Linked DNA regions of Homo sapiens. The protein of the gene in region 1 interacts with the protein of each later gene in a pairwise test. Each region holds a gene or a part of one and is shown in the gene's direction. Other genes may lie near its edges.

Evidence for each region.
Region 2: the proteins of RIOK3 (region 1) and PAK2 interact in a two-hybrid assay, tested with the Homo sapiens proteins (one large-scale study listed by BioGRID and IntAct).

The regions. Positions count from the first base shown.
Region 1 is NC_000018.10:23,449,867-23,456,108, forward strand, and holds the start of RIOK3 (serine/threonine-protein kinase RIO3), read left to right. Parts: upstream 1-3,420; 5' UTR 3,421-3,573; coding exon 3,574-3,636; intron 3,637-6,242.
Region 2 is NC_000003.12:196,797,863-196,802,356, forward strand, and holds part of PAK2 (serine/threonine-protein kinase PAK 2), read left to right. Parts: intron 1-4,064; coding exon 4,065-4,165; intron 4,166-4,494. UniProt on the Homo sapiens protein: Serine/threonine protein kinase that plays a role in a variety of different signaling pathways including cytoskeleton regulation, cell motility, cell cycle progression, apoptosis or proliferation.

The DNA.
Region 1 (6,242 bases):
TGAATTTTTGTTTTCAGCCCCTATTTTTTCTCATAAACTCTAGACTGCCTATTGGCCACTTTCAAACAGCATCCATACAGTTTGTTCATTTGCAAATATTTATTGAGTGCCTACTATATGCCAGCCACCATGCTAGGCACTGGTTTACAATAGTGAACACAATTCCTGCTCTCCTGGGAGGAAAAAAAAAACAGATAGGCAAATAAATGTGTATTTACAGTTTTACAGTTTTTGATCGCTGCTGTGTTCCATAAACAACCTAATTGTGACATGTATAACATAAAATTAATTCTATCATCTTCCCTTCAAACCAGATCTCCAGGCACCGCCTTCCACCCAGTCAACCAATCAAAAAACGGAAGTTATCTCAGACTTCCTGACCTCCATTGAGATGCCTGCCTCCCATCCTGCCCTGCCCCCATCTGGCACTGCCAACATCGGCACCAAAACCCAAGAATCAAATCTTGGAAATAAGAGAAATTGGATCAGAGTTGGAATAAAGAAAGAAAAAGTTTCTGAGACTTGAAATTAGACTGAAGGTATTAACACATTTAAAGACTGTGTCAGCCGGGCGCAGTGGCTCACGTCTGTAATTCCAGAACTTTGAGAGGCCGAGGCAGGCGGATCACCTGAGGTCAGGAATTAGAGACTAGCCTGGCCAACATGGCAAAACCCCGTCTCTTAATAAAAAATACAAAAAAATAAAAATAAAAATTAGCCGGGTGTGGTGGCAGGCGCCTGTAATCCCAGCTACTCGGGAGGCTGAGGCCAGAGAATCGCTTGAACCTGGGAGTCAGAGGTTGCAGTGAGCCGAGATTGCGCCACTGCACTCCAACCTGGGCTACAGAGTGACACTGTGTCCAAAAATAAAAAAATAAAAAATAATAATAATAATAATTAGCTGGGTGTGGTGGCACGCGCCTGTAGTCCCAGCTACTCGGGAGGCTGAGGCAGGAGAATTGCTGCTTGAATCCGGGAGGGGGATGTTGCAGTGAGCCGAGATCATGCCACTGCACTCCAGCCTGGGCGACAGAGTGAGACTCCGTCTCAAAAAACAAAAACAAAAACAAAAAAAACTCTTGGACCTGAACCTTTCCTGCATTCTCCAACCCATTCTCTCACTTTGTCCCTGTTGAACCCTACATCTGACCATGCCGAACCACCTGGCCTTTTCCGAGGTACCCTGAAGACTGCTCCCCTTGTACAGAAGGCCCTGCTCCACCTTACAGCCCATCTCACCAATGCCTGGTCATCTTGTGAGGCTGAGATCAAGTGTCATCTACTCTAAGGAATCCTTCCTGACATCTGGGTAGATCTGACCTCTTCCGGCCGGGCGCGATGGCTCACGCCTGTGATCCCAGCACCTTGGGAGGCCAATGCGGGCGGATCACGAGGTCAGGAGTTCGAAACCAGCCTGGCCAACATGGTGAAACACCGTCTCTACTAAAAATACAAAAATTAGCCGGGTGCAGTGGCACGCGCCTATAGTCCCACCTACTCGGAAGGCTGAGGCAGAAGAATCGCTTGAACCCACGAGGTGGAGGTTGCAGTGAGCCTTGATCATGCCACTGCACTCCAGCCTGGCGACAGAGCGAGACTCTATTTCAAAAGAAAAGAAAAGAAAAGAAAAGAAAAGAAAAGAAAAGAAAAGAAAAAAGTTAAAAAAAAAAAGATCTGACCTCTCTCCTTTACATTCAAAACAAAACAAAAAGAATATTCAGATTCTTAGTTTTATTTTCGACTTCCTGTCCTTTTCTGATATATCCCCCAAATAGTCTCTCACTGGCACATTTTTGTCATACACTGCATCTCAGCCTTAGCCTTTCTTTCTGGTCTGGTCTTTTCCTTTTAATCTTTTTTCTCTTTTTTTTTTTTGAGACGGAGTCTCACTCTGTTGCCCAGGTTGGAGTGCAGTGGCATGATCTTGGCTAATTGCAACCTCGGCCTCCCGAGGTCAAGTGATTCTCCTGCCTCAGCCTCCTGAGTAGCTGGGATTACAAGTGCGTGTCACCACACCCGGCTGCTTTTTGTATTTTTAGTAGAGATGGGGTTTCACCGTGTTGGCCAGGCTGGTCTCAAACTCCTGACCTCAGGTGATCCACCCACCTTGGCCTCCCAAAGTGCTGGGATTACAGGCATGACCCACCACGCCCAGCCCTCTCCTATTTTTTCCTAGCCAGAATTGAGAAGTCCATTTCTATTAATAGTTACACCCATTTTTCTTAAACTATTTATCGTCCAATTATAATCCTTTGAACACTAGGAAGGAACACAATTTCCACACACATTCACATATATAGGCAACATTTGCCAAGCACACATCTGCACCCTATCATATGGCTATAGTTTGCCTTATTGCAGTAGGGGTATTTGGAGGATTCAGAACATGTTTTCACCTGGAATGGAAAGGAGGCAAAGATTGTGTGCTAATGGAAATCATTAAGATCAGTAACCCAGGGCTCTCAAGTATGGACAGTTAGAGATACTGACTCGGAACTGAGATTTAGGGAAAACAGTTATTCAGTACCTATTTCTAGAATGTTTGAATATACAACATATAGACAGTGTATAGTTTATAGTCAAAATATAATGTACAGCCAGTCCAGTTCCCAAACCGATTGTCTGGGTTCACCCCTTATTAGCTTTGCCACTTGTTATCTGTGTGACCTCAACTAAATTACTTTACCTCTCTGTGCCTCAGTTTCAATATCAGTAAAATAGAGATAATGACAGAATTTAGCTCTCACGGTAATTTTGAGGACTAAAAAGTTAATGAAAGATTTGAACAGTGCATTGATATACTAAGTGAAATGCAATGTTTAGTTATCTTTTATCTGGTCATTTTATTAGAATCTCTACAAAATACAGAAACAAAAGTTTTATTATGCAGTCTTATTTTTGTTCACTGTTACGTAACACATTTTACACATTTTCCGCATTCCACGCCCCGCCCTTCAACAACAACCACCACAAACTCCGACCGTCCTTTCCAGGCCCTTTCCCTCTATAAACCTGCCGTTTTCTGTCTCCCAAGTCATCCCAGTTTAGAACTGCTCCAGGAAATAATGAATGAACAGAGAGAGCCTAGTTTGTTTATTTATTTACAATCCACTAGTCTAATCTAGTTTAGATCCAGCGGCAATTTTTGGGGTGCCAAGGAGGAAAGAAGGAGATGGCAGTGCGGGGACAGGGCAGAGCCTGGGCCAAAGGAAGCCACACCCAGTTCTTGCCCTGCCCTGCCCGACACAGGCAACGTGACCCCAAGCGACAGCCAGCTGATGCTTGCTTCTCCGAGCCCGGCGGTCAGCAGCCGGAAGTAGCCCGCCCGGGGGCGGGGAAAGGTGCCTTAAGGAGGAGCTAGGGGCGTGCGGCCAATTGCAAGCGACTGTCCTAGCGAAGAGGGCGGAAGAGGAGAGATCCAGTTCCGGACGCGGCCGCCGCCGTCGCCGCCATCTGTCACCTCCACTCCGGCATCAGCAGCCAGTCGCCCGTGTCCCGCCTGTCTCCTCGGCGGAGCCTGCTGCCCGTCCTGCCACCTCTCTGCTCTGTTCTTGTCTCTGCCTTCATTCCCGAATGGATCTGGTAGGAGTGGCATCGCCTGAGCCCGGGACGGCAGCGGCCTGGGGACCCAGCAAGGTAAGTGGCAGACGAGACTGGAGTACTAGCCTTGGTCACACGGGCTGGATCTCTCGGAAAGCTCGGAGAGGGCGGCTTCGTGGGCGATTCGGGAAGTTCTGGGGCGGGACCCCGCGGACCTCGGCAAGGGGGCACTGGCCGCGGGGGTGCCGGGATGGGGATGGAGGGAGCGGAAAGAGGGGCGGAGGGCGGCTGGATCTCCCAAAGGCCACCTTGAGTGGTTAGGGCTCTCTATTTCTTCAGCGTACTTTCTGTATCACCGTAGCATGTATTTGAGCAGGACTGGCTTACACACCCTGATGATACTGGAGGGGAAACAAGCACGATCTTGTTTTTCACTGGCCAAGTGAGTCAGCCGAATACACAGCTAGCCAGACAGAAAGTTGGTTTAGGAAGCTGTTTACTTAATTTGATAAGTGTGGTTATCCCAGTTTGGAAATGTCTTGTTTTTGAAGCAGTAAAAGATAAAACCCAGGCGCACCCTCCTCCCTCGACGCTGAAATTCAAGTGCGCACCACGGACTGTAAAGTGCTTATGAATTTCATTATCTGCCTAAGCTTTGACGTTTAAACTTTTTCATAGAGTGGCAAACTAAAGACCTTTATTTCACATTTGCTTTCTGGTTTCCAGGCAGGTCCTTTTCATGATACTTTGATTATATGGATGAAAACACTTTTCTGCCACTTTATGGAGGGTCTGCTTGAGAGCAGAGTGCTTCCATTGGGATTTTTTGTTCCACAAATTAAGGTCGTAAAGGAGTCTAGCTTTTTTAGCTTCATAGTTGTTCTTTACATGCTAACACAGAATATTTGTTCCCATTTAAAAGGTCTTATTAGATCTTCAGGCTAGGCCTTAACAGGAAAAGGGGTCAATAATTAGCTATTAAGTAACCAAAAGTTAATTTTGTAAAAGTTCTCGTACAGCTGTTGGAAGAATCTGAGATACTGCGTTGGCAAATGTGGTTAAGTCTGCATGTTATTTTGTGTATTTTTCCTTGAGACCTTGTTTACAAGGTCAAGATTAGCAGACATAAAAGGATGAAATCAGTAGACAGACTAGTATTATGAATATATACCCTGTATGTTAAAGTCCTTCAGTTAAGCATTGGCAGAGGCTGGTAAAAATGTCAAATGAGACAGACTCTATTCAGAATACATCCTAATCTCAGAACAAATTTCACTTACAAACTAATTCAGTAATAAACTATTTAACAGTCATATTTTTATTTAAGTGTACATCATCAGAACTATAAAATTCCATTTTCATTGTGCAACAAAAATGCTTCTGGGATTTATAGACGCTCTATTGGGAGGACAGTGTTTTGAAAGGCAAAACAATTAGAAACAGGCTGAAAGTACTATCATTAATCCTTTTTTTCTCTAACCTTTTGGAAAACCAAAGTGATTACAGAAGCCTACATGGAGGAGGTGAAGATTTGAGGAGGGTTTTGAAAAATGGAAGGATTCTCAAAACTTTTTAGTCAGGACTTCTTTCCTTCCTTCCTTCCTTCCTTTCCTTCCTTTCCTTTCCTTTCTTTCCTTCCTTTCTTTTCTTTCCTTTCTTTCCTTTTCATTTATTTATTTATTTGAGACGGAGTCTCGCCCTATCGCCCAGGCTGGAGTACAGTGGTTTGCTCCCAGCTCACTGCGACCTCTGCCTTCCGGGTTCAGGCAATTCTTGTGACTCAGCCTCCTGAGTAGCTGGGATTACAGGCGCCTGCCACCACGCCCAGCTGATTTTCGTATTTTTTTTTGTAGAGATGGGATTTCACCGTATTGGCCAGGCTGGTCTCAAACTCCGACCTCAAGTGTCCACCCGCCTCGGCCTCCCACACTGCTGGGATTACAGGCGTGAGCCACCATGCCCAACGTCTTTCTTTTTTTTTTTTTCTTTTTCTTTTTTTTTTTTGAGACGGAGTCTCGCTTTGTTGCCCAGGCTGTAGTGCAGTGGCGCGATCTCGGCTCACTGCAAGCTCCGCCTCCTGGGTTCAAGCGATTCTCCTGCCTCAGCCTCCCGAGTAGTGGGACCACAGGTGCCCACCACCACACCCGGCTAATTTTTTGTATTTTTAGTAGAGGCGGGGTTTCACCGTGTTAGCCAAGATGGTCTCGATCTCCTGACCTCGTGATCCGCCCACCTTGGCCTCTTTCTTTTTTAATTGAGACAGGGTCTCACTCTGTCACCCAGGCTGGAGTGCAGTGGCATGATCACATCTCACACTGTGCCTTGACCTTGCAGGCTCCCACCTCGGCCTCCTGATTAGCTGGACTACAGGCCAGTGCCACCACACCTAGCTAATTTTTGGGTTTTTTTTGAGACGGAGCCTCGCTCTGTCACCAGGCTGGAGAGCAGTGGCATGATCTCAGCTCACTGCAACCTCCGCCTCCTGGGTTCAAGCAATTCTTCTTCCTCAGCCTCCCAAGTAGCTGGGACTACAGGTGCATGCCACCATGCCCAGCTAATTTTTATATTTTTAGTAGAGATGGGGTTTCACCATGTTGGCCAGGATGGTCTCGATCTCTTGACATTGTGATCCTCCCACCTTGGCCTCCCAAAGTGCTGGGATTACAGGTGTGAGCCACCGCGCCCAGCCAATTTTTGTATTT
Region 2 (4,494 bases), on another chromosome or scaffold:
GTAAAGAAAGCACTTCACAAATAAAAAGATATTTAGAAAATATATTAAGCCGAATGAAAATTCAAAACATCAATATTTGTAGGATACTGCTAAAGCAGTACTTAGTGGAAAACTTATAGTATTAAACACCATATTAGAAGAAAAGATTTTAAATCAATGACTTTAGCTAAGCCATCTTAATAAACTAGAAGGGAAGAGCAGATGAAATCCAAAGTAAGTAGAAGAAAGGAAATAATAAAAAGCAAAATGGGAATAAATGAAATAGGGGGAAAAAGCAGCAGAGAAAATCACTGCAACCAAAAGTAGATTCATTTAGAATGTCAATAAAATGGATAAACCTATAGCCAGACTGACAGGGGGCAGTGGATGGGGAGGAGAGACACATTACCAATATTGAGAATGAGAGAGGTGGTGGCACCCCTACAGATTTTACAGATATTAAAAAGATGGTATGAACAAATATGTACCAACTTTTTTTTCTTTTCTCTTTTTTTTTTTGGAGAAGGAGTCTTGCTTTGTTGCCCAGGCTGGAGTACAGTGGTGCGATCTTGGCTCACTGCAACTGCCACCTCCCAGGTTCAAGTGATTCTCCTGCCTCAGCCTCCCTAGTAGGTGGGATTATAGGCATGCATCACCACGCCCGGCTAATTATTGTATTTTTAGTAGAGACGAGACTTCACCATGTTGGCCAAGCTGGTCTTGAACTCCTTAGCTCAAGTGATCCCTCTGCCTCAGCCTCCCAAAGTGCTAGGATTATAGGCATGAGCCACTGTGCCTGGCCAATGTTAAATTCTTAGCAAGATTTTAGCAGTTGGAATCCAGCAGTGTATAAAAAGGGTAATACATCATGACCAAGTGGATTTCGTTGGTTTAAGTTTGAAAATCGATGGATGTTATTTACTGTATTAACACAATAGAAAGGATGAGCCATGGGTTTGTCTCAATACATGGAGAAAAGGCATTTGACGGAACCCAGTATCCATTGCTGATAGAAGTGTTCAGCAAACTTGGAATAGAAGAGAATGCCCTTTAGCCTCATAAAGGACATCTTTTAAAAACCTACCATTGGCATTAAACTTAAGGGTAAAAAGAATGACAGTTTTTCCTCTTAGATCAGGAAAAATAAAATTTCTCTTCATCCACTTTTATTCAACAATGTACTGAAGGGTCTAGCTAATGTAGTAAGGCAAAAAAAAATTTTTTTTAAGAAAACGAATAAAAGGAATCCAGATTGGAAAGAAGTAAACTTGATTTTATTCACCGACAACATGATTGAATTTTTGTAGCAAAATTGTATATTTACAAAAATACTAGTGGAAGTAAGTGTAATAAGGTTTCAGGATATAAGATTAGTATTCAAGAAACAACTGTGTTTCTTTATGGCTGCAATGAATGATTAAAAAGGGAATTTTAAAACTGCCATTTGCAATAGTATCAAAACCAGGAAATACCGAGGCAGAAATCTGATGAAACAGTGTGCGCTCTGCACTGATAACTACTGCTCTGTTTCTAAGTGTCCCCCAGAGTTCATGTGTTAGAAACTGAAGCCCCAGTAAGAGAGTGTTGAGACATGGGACCTTCAAGAGGCGACGCGAGTGCTCACGGATGGACTCATGTCTTTATTGTGGATGCGAGTTGCTTATAAAAGCCAGTTTGGCCCTCTCCTGCTCTCTTTCTTGCAATGTGATGCCTTCGGCTACGTTATGACACAACAAGAAGGACCCTCACCAGGTGTGGCTTCTTGGTCCTTGACCTGGAGGACTTTCCAGCCTCCAGGAGAACTGTGAGCCAAATGAACTTTTATTTTTTTGAGGCAGTCTCACGCTGTGACTCAGGCTGGGGAGTGCAGTGACACAATCTCGGCTCACTGCAGCCTCCACCTCCTGGGTTCAAGCAATTCTTGTGCCGCTATACTCGGCTGAAGTTTGCATTTTAGATACAGTGTTTTGCCATGTTGGCCAGATGGGTCTTGAACTCCTGGCCTTATGTGATCTGCCCACCTCAGTCTCCCAAAGTGCCAGGATTACAGGCATGAGCTACTGCTCGCAGCCAGCTTCTAATGTTTATATTAATCAATTGCATAGGCAGTGGTATTCTGATAAAGCGTACCGAACGGATGAAGACAACTGCAAACACTGCTGAGAGAAATTTTTAAAGACCTAAATAAATGAAAAGATTTGCTGTTTTCATGGATCAGAAAACTCGGTGTTGTTAAGAAATCAAGAAATAAATTCTCAGCCAGGTGCAGTGGCTCATGTCTGTAATCCCAGCACTTTGGCAAGCCAAAGCAGATGGATCGCTTGAGGCCAGGAGTTTGAGACCAGCCTGGCCAACATGGTGAAACCCCATCTCTACCAGAAATTATAAAAATCAGCCTGGTATGATGGTGCATGCCTGTAATCCCAGCTCCTCAGGAGGCTGAGGTAGGAGAATTGCTTGAACCCGGGAGGCAGAGGTTGCAGTGAGCTGAGATCACGCCACTGCACTCCAGCCTGGGCGACAGAATGAGACTCCCTGTTAAAAAAGAAAAAGAAAGAAAGAAAGAAATTCTCCTTAAAATTCATCTGTATGTACATTCATTCCAATTCTAGTCAGAATTCCAACAGGCTTTCTGTAGAAATTAATAAGCTTATTCTAAAATTAATAGGGAAATGCAGAGGACCTCGATTACCCAAACAGCTTTGACAAAAGAAAAAGAAGACTTATGTGACATAGTTTCAATGCGTATTACAAAATGGCAATAAAATAATCAAGGCAGTCTGATAGTGGCATAAAGGCAGACAAACAGATAATTGCAACAGAGCAGAGCCTTCAGAGATAGACTCACACGTGTACAGACAATTGACTTTCAACAGTGGCTCCAAACAGGAACCAAAATGGCGCTGGCCTTCTAAATGGCAACACTGGAAATGCTGAGGGTTCCAACTTATATATATATAAAATTAGTGAAGAACTATCACTAAAGGGATAAATCAAGAGGAAAACGTAAGATCCAGAAAATAGATTCCAGCACATACAGGGCAGGAGTGAAGGGATGTCATGGACGGTAACTGCAGGAAGCGTAGGCATGAGCTACTGCAGATTAGAGCAGGAGGAGCTGAGAGGGAGGGGGTAGGGGGAAGGAACTGATGTGTTGGAGTTCACAGAGAACATTATTGATAGGTGTGTGGCAGAAATGTTGCAGAAATAATTTACAATCGGACCATAGAAAAACTGCATAGTTTTAAAATGTGGCAATTAGTAACTCCACTAAAAAAGGATTATGCTTGCACAAAAAAGGAGAGGTGGTTTTGTCAACTACTTGTCTTGACAGTGTGTATTATCTGCGGAGTCACAGTAATGCAAATCTGACTTCCTGATGAATGTAGCTGAGTGGAAATGGGGTTTGCTGTGTTTGCTGTCCACATTGCTCAGCATCTGAGATGTAGCCCTTTGTGAGAGAGCTGGTGCCCGAAGGGGGTGTCTCTTCTGCCTGTGCTCTGTTACTCAGGCCTGCCGTTGGTCACTCCATGTGCCTCCTCAGTGTTTGGTTGTGTCCAGCCCTACTCTATGGCAGGACAGTCTGCTTTACTTCATTTACTAGTTTCCTATCAGCCAGTTTTTAGGGGAAATCTTTTCTAGAATAACTTTGATTCTAGTGTGTTTTCTAGAATAACTTTGATCCTAATATGTTTTAGGAAAAATATAAACATAATATGCCGGGCATGCGGTGGCTCACATCTGTAATCTCAGCACTTTGGGAGGCCAAGGCAGGTGGATCAGGAGTTTGAGACCAGCCTGATCAACATGATGAAACCCTGTCTCTACTAAAAATACAAAAATTAGCCGGGCATGGTGGTGGGCACCTGTAATCCCAGCTACTTGGGAGACTGAGGCAGGAGGATGGCTTGAACCCGGGAAGCAGAGGTTGCAGTCAGCTGAGATTGCACCACTGCACTCCAGCCTGGGCAACAAGAGCGAAACTCCATTTAAAAAAACAAAAGACAAAAAATAAAATTATAAGTGCCTTTACTAGTCTTGTTTAAATAGGCTGATTCTTTCTCTTTTTTTCTAATGCCCCCTAGGAAGTAAAAAGAAAGAAAAGGAACGGCCAGAAATTTCTCCTCCATCTGATTTTGAGCACACCATCCATGTTGGCTTTGATGCTGTTACTGGAGAATTCACTGTAAGTTAACCTAGTTCGGGCCCATTTATAACGTTTAAAATAGCACTCAAACATTTTCCTTCATTATTAAATTTGAAATTAACATTTCAGGCCAGGTGCGGTGGCACACGCCTGTAATCCCAGCACTTTGGGAGGCCAAGGCTGGCAGATCATTTGAGGTCAGGAGTTCGAGACCAGTGTGGCCAACATGGTGAAACCCCATCCCTACTAAAAATACAAGAAAATTAGCCAAGCGTGGGGGTGTATGCCTGTAATTCCAACTACTCAGGAGGCTGAGGCAGGGGAATCATTTGAACCTCGGAGATGGAGGTTGCAGTGAACAGAGACTG